2 separate regions of the Homo sapiens genome follow, and region 2 is linked to region 1. Evidence: fine-mapped expression QTL. A gene starts in region 1. The other region holds a variant in brackets. All regions are shown on one strand. Distances are between the middles of the regions. Region 1 holds the start of FA2H (fatty acid 2-hydroxylase). Region 2 overlaps WDR59 (WD repeat domain 59).

Region 1 (4,394 bases):
CTCTGTTCTCCCCTCAGGTCCTTCCCCAGGGCCCAGGATTAGAGTGAGGGAGTGAGGCACTAACCCTGAGAGCAAAATCTACAGGCATGCCAAAAAACAAACAAAAAAAAGTAACCAAGATAAATAATATTTTAATGCAGTATTGTAAAACTTCAAGATTAATGCAAAAAAATCCATGATGGACAAAATATCAAAATTTTAAATAAAAACAGGAGCTAACCCTGCACTTTCACATCCCTGTCTCAGGAATCCCTGGCCCTGGTTCCAATAAAACTTTATTTACAAAAACAGGTGGCCAATGCCACGCCCCCAACCCCACCCCTCACCCCTGTCTTTTGACAATGTGATTTTTTAAAACATTCTTAAATATTTTGTATTGCGGTAAAATATACATAATATAAATTTACCATTCCAACCATTTTCAGTGTACAGTTCAGTGGCATTAAGAACATTCACATTGTGCAACAAAATAATTTTTTTTTTGAGACAGAGTCTCTCTTTCTCGCCAGGCTGGAGTGTGGTGGGGCGTTCTCGGCTCACTGCAACCTCCAACTCCCAGATTCAAGCGATTCCCCTGCCTCAGCCTCCCAAGTAGCTAGGACTACAGATGCGTGCCTCCACAGCCAGCTAATTTTTGTATTTTTAGTAGAGATGGGGTTTCACTATGTTGGCCAAGATGGTCTCGATCTCTTGACCTCGTGATTCGCCCACCTCGGCCTCCCAAAGTGCTGGGATTACAGGTGTGAGTTACCGCACCCAGCCAACAATATAATTTTTTAAATATTACGTTCAGGTATTAGATATAGTGATGACTGAGTTTTGGGGTGCCCCATTAAATTTTGCCCTCGAACATTATTAAAAAGTCAAGAAACAGTAGATGTCTGCGTGTATGTAGTGAAAGGGGGATGCTTATGCTATGCACTGCTGGTGGGAATGTAAATTAGTACAACTTGTTTGGAAAACAGTACAGAGATTCTTTAACAAACTAAAAGTACACTTTGGGGCTGGGCGCGGTGGCTCACGCCTGTAATCCCAGCATTTTGGGAGGCTGCGGCGGGAGGATCACTAGAGGCCAGGAGTTCGAGACCAACCTGGCCAACATGGTGAAACCCCGTCTCTACTAAAAATACAAAAAAATTAGCCGGGCGTGGTGGCACGCGCCTATAGTCATAGCTACTCTGGAGGCTGAGGCAGGAGAATCGCTTGAACCCGGGAGGCGGAGGTAGCAGTGAGCTGAGATTGTGCCACTGCACTTCAGCCTGGGCAACAGAGTGAGACTCTGTCTCAAAAAAAAAAAAAAAAAGTGCACTATGGGAGGCCATGGCAGGCAAATCGCTTGAGCCCAGGAGTTTGAGACCATCCTGGGCAGCATGGTGAAACCTCGTCTCTACAAAAAATACAAAAATTAGCCAGGCGTAGTGGTGCATGCCTGTAGTGCCAGCTACTTGGGAGGCTGAGGTAAGAGGATTGCTTGAGCCCGGGAGGTCGAGGCTGCAGTGAACCAAGATCGCACCACTACTCTCCAGCCTGGGTGACAGAGTGAGACCTTGTCACGGGAAGGGAAGGGAAAGGAAGGGAAGGGGAGGGGAGGGGAGGGGAGGAGAGAAAAAGTAGATTCACCATTCGGTCCAGCAATCCCACCACTGGGTATCTACCCAAAGGAAAAGAGTCATTATATGAAAAAGACACTTGCACACGAATGTTTGTTTTTTGCAGCCCAATTCACAATCGAAAAGATATGGAACCAACTTAAATAACCATCAACCAATGAGTGGATAAAGAAAATGTAGTTGATATACACGATAGAATACTACTCAGCCATAAAAAGGAACGAAATGAAGTCTTTTGCAGCAACTTGCATGGAGCTGGAGGCCATTATTCTAAGTGAAAGTGATTCAGGAATGGAAAACCAAACACTGTATGTTCTCACTCATAAGTAGGAACTAAGCTATGAGGACGCAAAGGCATACAGAGTGATATAATGGACAATAGGGAGAATGGGAGGGGGTGTAACACACACACACACACAAAACCCTACACATTGGGTATAATGTACACTACTCGGGGGACAGGTGGACTAAAATCTCAGGACTTACCACTATACAATTCCTCCATGTAACCAAAAACCACTGGTACCCCAAAAGCTACTGAAATTTTAAAAACAAACAAATATTTGCACCCGAGGCGAGCACCTCATTCGCCTCTCGCTCTCTCGGGCACCTCCTGGAGCCAGAGGGTCCCATGCGGCCAGCTCCTCCGTGGAAGCAGTTGAAGTTATTCCAGCAGCGATCAGGCCACCGAGGATGTCCGCCCAGACAACCACCCGCGACGGGGAGACTCGCTCCGCCTGTGTCCGCCCACCCTCCTCCCGCGCGGGACACACCTGGCGGGCGCGGCACTCCCTGTCCGCGGCCACCTGGCGCGCAGCTCCCGGCGCCGGGCCCGCCCCTCGCGGCTCTGCCGGGGCTCCCGGCCGGCCAATGGGAGCGCGGTATGCAAATGAGCAGGTGCGGTGGCGGCCCGCCCGGAACGGCCGCGGGGCTCCCGGGATGTTAGAGGCGCTCAGGGTGGCAGCAGAGCAGACGCCGGGCTGCGCGCTGGGAGCTGCGGTCTCCGGCCATGGCCCCCGCTCCGCCCCCCGCCGCCTCCTTCTCGCCCTCCGAGGTCCAGCGGCGCCTGGCGGCCGGCGCGTGCTGGGTCCGCCGCGGGGCCCGCCTCTACGACCTCTCCAGCTTCGTGCGGCACCACCCGGGGGGCGAGCAGCTGCTGCGGGCCAGGGCGGGCCAGGACATCAGCGCCGACCTGGACGGGCCGCCGCACAGGCACTCGGCCAACGCGCGCCGCTGGCTGGAGCAGTACTACGTGGGAGAGCTCCGCGGGGAGCAGCAGGTACAGCCGGGCCGGGGCCCCCCACCCCAACCCAGGCCTCCGTCAGCCTTCCACTCCCGGGCGAGCCCCGTTCACTTGCCCTCTAGCAGGACCCAAGGTGACAGCTTCTGCCCTCCCTTCCCTCGCTTTCCCTCTCTTCTCTCCAGGCAACAGGTCACTGTCGTCCCCTCCAACCCCTCCTTCCTCTCTCCAGGAACTTGCTCTTCCTTTCCACCCTTACCGCCTGGCCCGCCTCCGTGCCAGCTCTCCCATTTCCCCAGCACCCCTCCTTCCAGCGTGTTCCTTCTGCAGCCCCTGCCCTCCGACAACCTGGATTCCCGTTTCTGTCCCCAGCCCCCCATACGCCTCGGCTTTCCTTCCTCTTCACTTATCGGCCTCTCCCTCTTTGCAACCACTCTCCGTTTCTGTTTGGATAATGGGCTCAACCTGTTCCCACCTCCCCATCCCACCTCACTTCTGCTTCAAAGAGGCACAGATCAGTAACTCTTCTCACTAGCTTGGGTTTCCTGGTGCCGCCCTGGCCTTGCCTGGGCCATGTCTGGGGTGGACTGTGTCCTCCAACCTCTCAGACCTTCCCTTATATTCTTGTCCTACACGCTGGCTTGGGACTCCAAAAGAGTGAAATGAAAGGCATGAGCCAGTTTTGCCAAGGAAAAGGGACCAGCACTTTGGACCAGACTGTGTGCTGAGCTGCACGCTTCTGTGCAGTACCAGCTCCCGATGGTATTTAAGTCCTTAACTCAACCTGGGGCAGGTTTTGTTATTCCCATTTCAGGATATGGAATCTGAGGCTCAGGGAGGCTCTGATTAATGCGCCTAAGGTCAAATAGCTAAATAGTGGGAAAGCCACATGTATCTGACTCCAAAATCAATGCTGGCTCCATCCCAAAAGTCTTCGGGTGGAGGAGACAGACCTAGTCCACAGGATTCCAGGTAGGCTCAGGCCAGAGGCAAAGCGACTCTCTTGATGTTCCCCAGGCCTGGCTCTGGGACTGGTATGGGGCCATCATGCTTAGATATACAGTAGTTCCCCCTTGTCCAAGGGGATACATTTCAAGACCCTCAGTGGATCCTTAAAACCACAGATAGTACCGAATCCTATATATGCTATGTTTTTTCCCATATATGCATATCTATGATAAAGTTAAATTTATAAATTAAGAACAATAGGAAGAGATTAACAACAACAATAATAGAATAGTTACAACAATATACTGTAATAAGAGCTATTTGTATGTGGTCCCTTTCTCTCAAAACATCTTATAGTACTGTACTCACTCTTCTTGTGATAATGTAAGATGATAACATGAGGCCAGGCAAAGTGGCTGACATCTGTAATCCTAGCACTTTGGGAGGCCGAGGTAAGAGGATCGCTCGAGCCCAGGAGTTCAAGACCAGCCTGGGCAACATAGGGAGACCTTGTGTCTACAAAAAATACCAAAATTAGCCGGGTGTGGTGGCATGTGGCTATAATTCTAGCTACTTGGGAGGCTAAGGTGGGAGGA
Region 2 (4,394 bases), 120 kb before region 1:
TGTATGCACATAATTTTTTAGAAAACCAGGGCAAGTAGGAATGGAAGGGCTACCCCATAATAATTGATAAAGCTTCCCCTTGTATTGCAGAATAATGACTTGGGTATGGATAAATGGTAAATAGTCACTGAACTGCTTCTTAAGATCAAATGGGGCCGGGCGTGGTGGCTCATGCCTGTAATCTTAGCATTTTGGGAGGCCAAGGTGGGTGAATCACTTGAGGTCAGGAGTTCAAGACCAGCCTGGCCAATATGGTGAAACCCTGTCTCTACTAAAAATACAAAAATTAGCTGAGTATGATGGTGCATGCCTGTAATCCCAGCTACTCGGGAGGCTGAGGCAGGAGAATCACTTGAACCCCGGAGGCGGAGATTTCAGTGAGCCAAGATCACACCACTGCACTCCAGCCTCAGCAACAGAGCAAGACTCTGTCTCAAAAGAAAAAAAAATAAAAAGATCAAACGGGTTAAAGTTCCAAATTGATAGTGTAACATGCATTTACAAATGATGATAAACAGTTCACAGATACTTCAGCTAAACTTCTTCATTTACCTGCCCTGAACTAACTCCACATGTCCTGAATTTAGTAGGTTCCAAGACACATGATAACCCTATAGGAAGTTACATGCATTGGACAACTTTAGGTATTAAATGGGATATCAGTGGTCAGAAACCCTTTATGGAAGAATGATTGTATAAAAATCACTTACAGAAAATGAATTTATTTGTGAGTAATCTAAATAATGGTCCAATTTAAATTCCTGAGAGTTTATATACATTCATAATAGTTACATGTTTCTAGAGTACACTTTTCCATTTAATTTGCACCCCTGCCTCTTCATTGTACGCTCATTAATCTTGTGAGATTGGAACAACAGAGGTCATGATTGGCCATAAGTTGTCAGTGAGCAAACAAAGTCACATGCCTTAGACTAAATTCATAACAAATAAAAACTTGCCGAGGGTCCTGCTGAGCCAGTACATGTAGTAGTAAGACCTGGAAATCTTGATTTTCTAATTCCAAATTGGAGGCCTTTTTACTAGCTCCTTTTGCCTTTTTTTGTTAATAAATATGTCACTCCTTCCTTAGTTGAATCACTTTGGTGACCCCCTTTTTAACTTCTGGCAATAAAATGGAATCCTGCTCCTTGGTTTGTCATTTTAAAGATTCCAGATGGGGCTGTGCTCTGATAATTCAAGTTTTTCAGGACATCTCTCATTTCACACATACAGGCTCCTCACACATGTAGCCACCCATAGGTAAGCCTGGGGAAATCGAATACTTGCCCACAATCTTCCATGTCTGTTACCCAAGCCCCTTGAATCAGGTATTTTTGACATTGAGAACGATCACTTTTAGAAATAATTCAAGTCTGCCAGAAAAACGGGGTAATTCTCCTCAAGGTGCAAAGTTTCTCTGTTTTCCTACCATATAGATTAAGGTTTGCAGAGCCCACACTGCTATGTCTGCAATAAATTTTCAACAAACCCTGTTCAAACTGCCTAAGGAAAAAAATTTTGATGAGTTTCAGGCAGGAATTTTGAACCTAGGACTGAATTCAATCTAAAAATTGTTCTCCCACATTTTTGTGGCCTTTACTAACTTATTTACTTGCTGTTTTCAAATTCATTAATTAATGTATTAATCCTGGCTTCCTGATATGTGTTTTTGAGCACCTGCAGAATGTATCTAGCCTGGCAGTAGGTGCTTATTTTCCTGTTAGGATTTTTGGAACAAGAGCTCATCCTTTTATTTCCTACAGATGCTGATTCCCATAATTGTGGGCATGATGTAATTTTTAAAAAGTGCAAATTGCCAATGACCCCAATATGATGAGCTCTGCAATTGTTGGTTTCCACTTGTCAAAGTCCCCATTAGTTACATCCTGTCATCTACCCCTAGAAATCAAGACGATGGAAAAGTAAGCGTGAGGGATCAGACTCTGGCAATCGACAGATCAAGGCTGCTGGGAAAGTCATCATCCAGGATATTGCTTGCCTCCTGCCTGTTCACAAATCGCTGGGAGAGCTGTACATGTAAGTACAAAATTTCAAGTCTGCTGCACTCATCATTTAGCCAGGATTAGCAAAACTTTTTTTTTTTTTGAGTGTGGGAATCCTTTCTTCAAAAGCAGTTTTAGGAAAAGCCCAATGTATTAGCTTTCTGTTGCTGTGGACAAATTCCCACAAACTTAGCAGCTTCCAACAACATTCATTTCTTATCTTCCAGTTTTTGTGGGTCGCGAGTCTGGACACAGCTTTTCTGTGTCCTTGCTTAGGGTCTCAGCAGGCTGAAATGGTGTTGGCCAGGCAGTGGTCTCATCCGATGCAAAGCTCCTCTTCCAAGCTTGTTCAGGTTGTCAGCAGAATTCAGACCCTTGCAGCTGTAGAACTCATCTGTAAATTTCGTCTTGAGACCAGCAGGAATGGCTCACACATGCTTTACCTTCCCTCTAAGGCCTCACCTGATGAGGTCAGCCCCACCCAGGATAGTCTCTCTGTAGGTGACTTCAAAGTCAATTGCTTAATAACATAATCACAGAAGTGATATCCCATCAATATTCACTGGTGTCACCCACATTCAAAGGGGGTGGAGTATTGTACAAGGCATGCTACTTTACAAAGCAGAAGAGCTGTTATGCAAAGCAGGGCTACTTTTGTTTGGA[T/C]GGAAGTGAGAGGTGAGTAATTGGCATGCAGAGGCCACCTGTAGTTCCCCTGCCTCTTCCTAAACTCGAACTCATAACAGAAAGTGTTTCCTTTGTAGTCTACACACAGCACACTACTCTTTCTGTTAGGAACCATAGTCAGTGTCGCATGTATTTCAATTCATTTTTATTCAACCCTCACGGCTTGGGAACTCCATAGAAAAGCTGGTTGGTAAATTGGTATTTGAGTATGGCCTGCCCTCCTGACTTTAAAGAGGTGTGCAATTTCAAGTTCCCCAGGCTGGAACCCACAGATGTATTAGCTTCAGCTCTAGTTAAGCTTTTCCTCTGAGTCAGATAGAAAGGGGGCCCAAGGCCAACGCGGAATAAAACATTTTGAGTGATAACCAAAGAGTCAGGTTCTCATCTGTCTGTTAAACTGGGAGTCGTTGATTTGGGAAGTTACACTAGAAAGAAATGTTTAATTCTTTTTAAAAAATTTCAGATTGAATGTGAATGATATTCAGGAAACATGTCAGAAGAATGCCGCCTCTGCCTTGCTCGTTGGAAGAAAGGATCTTGTCCAGGTATTGTCCATCCCTTTTGGTGGAGATTTGGATTTTTCTTCAGGAGCAAATTGTTTTTACTTTGTCATTGGCATTTAATGACATTTTCAAAGTGTGTGTCTTAATTTGGAATTCATTTTCCATTTTCTTTGCCAGTCTGTAGGGTTAGAGTGGCTTTCCAAATGCTGGAAATTTTTTCTTTTTGGTGCTCAGTTGGGAAGGTCCTAAAGCATCGATGAATTTTTTTAATTATACATCTCTTTTCTGTTCCAGTATCAGTGATTGCTGTGTAGCTAAACTTGCATGTCTATTTCTTTGTCATTTGTTCCTTCTTTCTAAAATGCTTCATTTTATGAAATATTTACCAAAGTGCTCCTTTAGATAGAGATGTTCAGTTTTAAAATATGATTTAACATGACAAATATTTAAATTTTCTTCATCTTTGCAGCAACATATCAGTGTATTATAACAAATTATCTCTGTATTTTTTTAAACGGCTTAACTGAGATATAGCCCATCTACCATGCAATTTGCCCATTTAAAATACACCATTCAGTGGTTTGTTTTTGTTTTTGTTTTTTTTGATGGAGTTTCACTCTGTCGCCCAGGCTAGAGTGCAGTGGCACGATCTCAGCTCACCACAACCTCCGCCTCCCGGGTTCAAGCGATTCTCCTGCCTCAGCCTCCCGAGTAGCGGGGATTATAGATGCGTGCCACCAAACCCGGCTAATTTTTGTACTTTTTAGTAGAGATGGGGTTTCACCATGTTGGCCAGGCTAGTCTTGAACTCCTGGCCTCAAGTGATCCTTCTGCCTTGGCCTCCCAAAGTGTTGGGATTACAGGCGTGAGCCACCACACCCAGTCTTTTTGTTCTTTATGCTCATGTTGAAGATATGTTTACTGTTTTGCAAAGAGTTGCAGAAGTAAATGCAAGAGTCACTGTTTCTGTTGAAGGCATTCAGGAAATGTGTATTATCAGTGAGGAAATAACACGTCTAAATTGTCAGCCAGGGTAGTAAACATCTTATCTCATCCCAGAAAGTCATTAACTTCCTCTAGTGCTGATTCACTAGGTTATTGATTATAGAGATGAATGTGAACTTCAAGTTTCTCCTTTTCGACAATACCTTCTGTATATTTTTCAAGTATGTTGGTGCCACGTGATTTAATTGATTTTGCATGC

The links. PIP is the estimated chance that this variant, and not a neighbour inherited with it, causes the effect.
Region 2: its variant is the best candidate, but not a certain one, in a credible set for the expression of FA2H in whole blood (TOPMed, PIP 0.61).

The regions. Positions count from the first base shown.
Region 1 is chr16:74,772,981-74,777,374 of GRCh38, reverse strand. FA2H (fatty acid 2-hydroxylase) reads left to right here and starts at 2,555. Exons shown (of 7, transcript NM_024306.5): 1 at 2,555-2,889. The coding sequence starts at 2,620. RefSeq lists silencers at 2,249-2,308, 2,319-2,448, 2,459-2,828, 2,869-2,918.
Region 2 is chr16:74,891,322-74,895,715 of GRCh38, reverse strand. It overlaps WDR59 (WD repeat domain 59), which reads left to right. Exons shown (of 26, transcript NM_030581.4): 19 at 1,904-2,037; 20 at 3,151-3,232. Among named protein-coding and RNA genes, the nearest start is that of WDR59, 92 kb to the left of the region's middle. The variant T/C (reference allele first, on the strand shown) is at 2,667.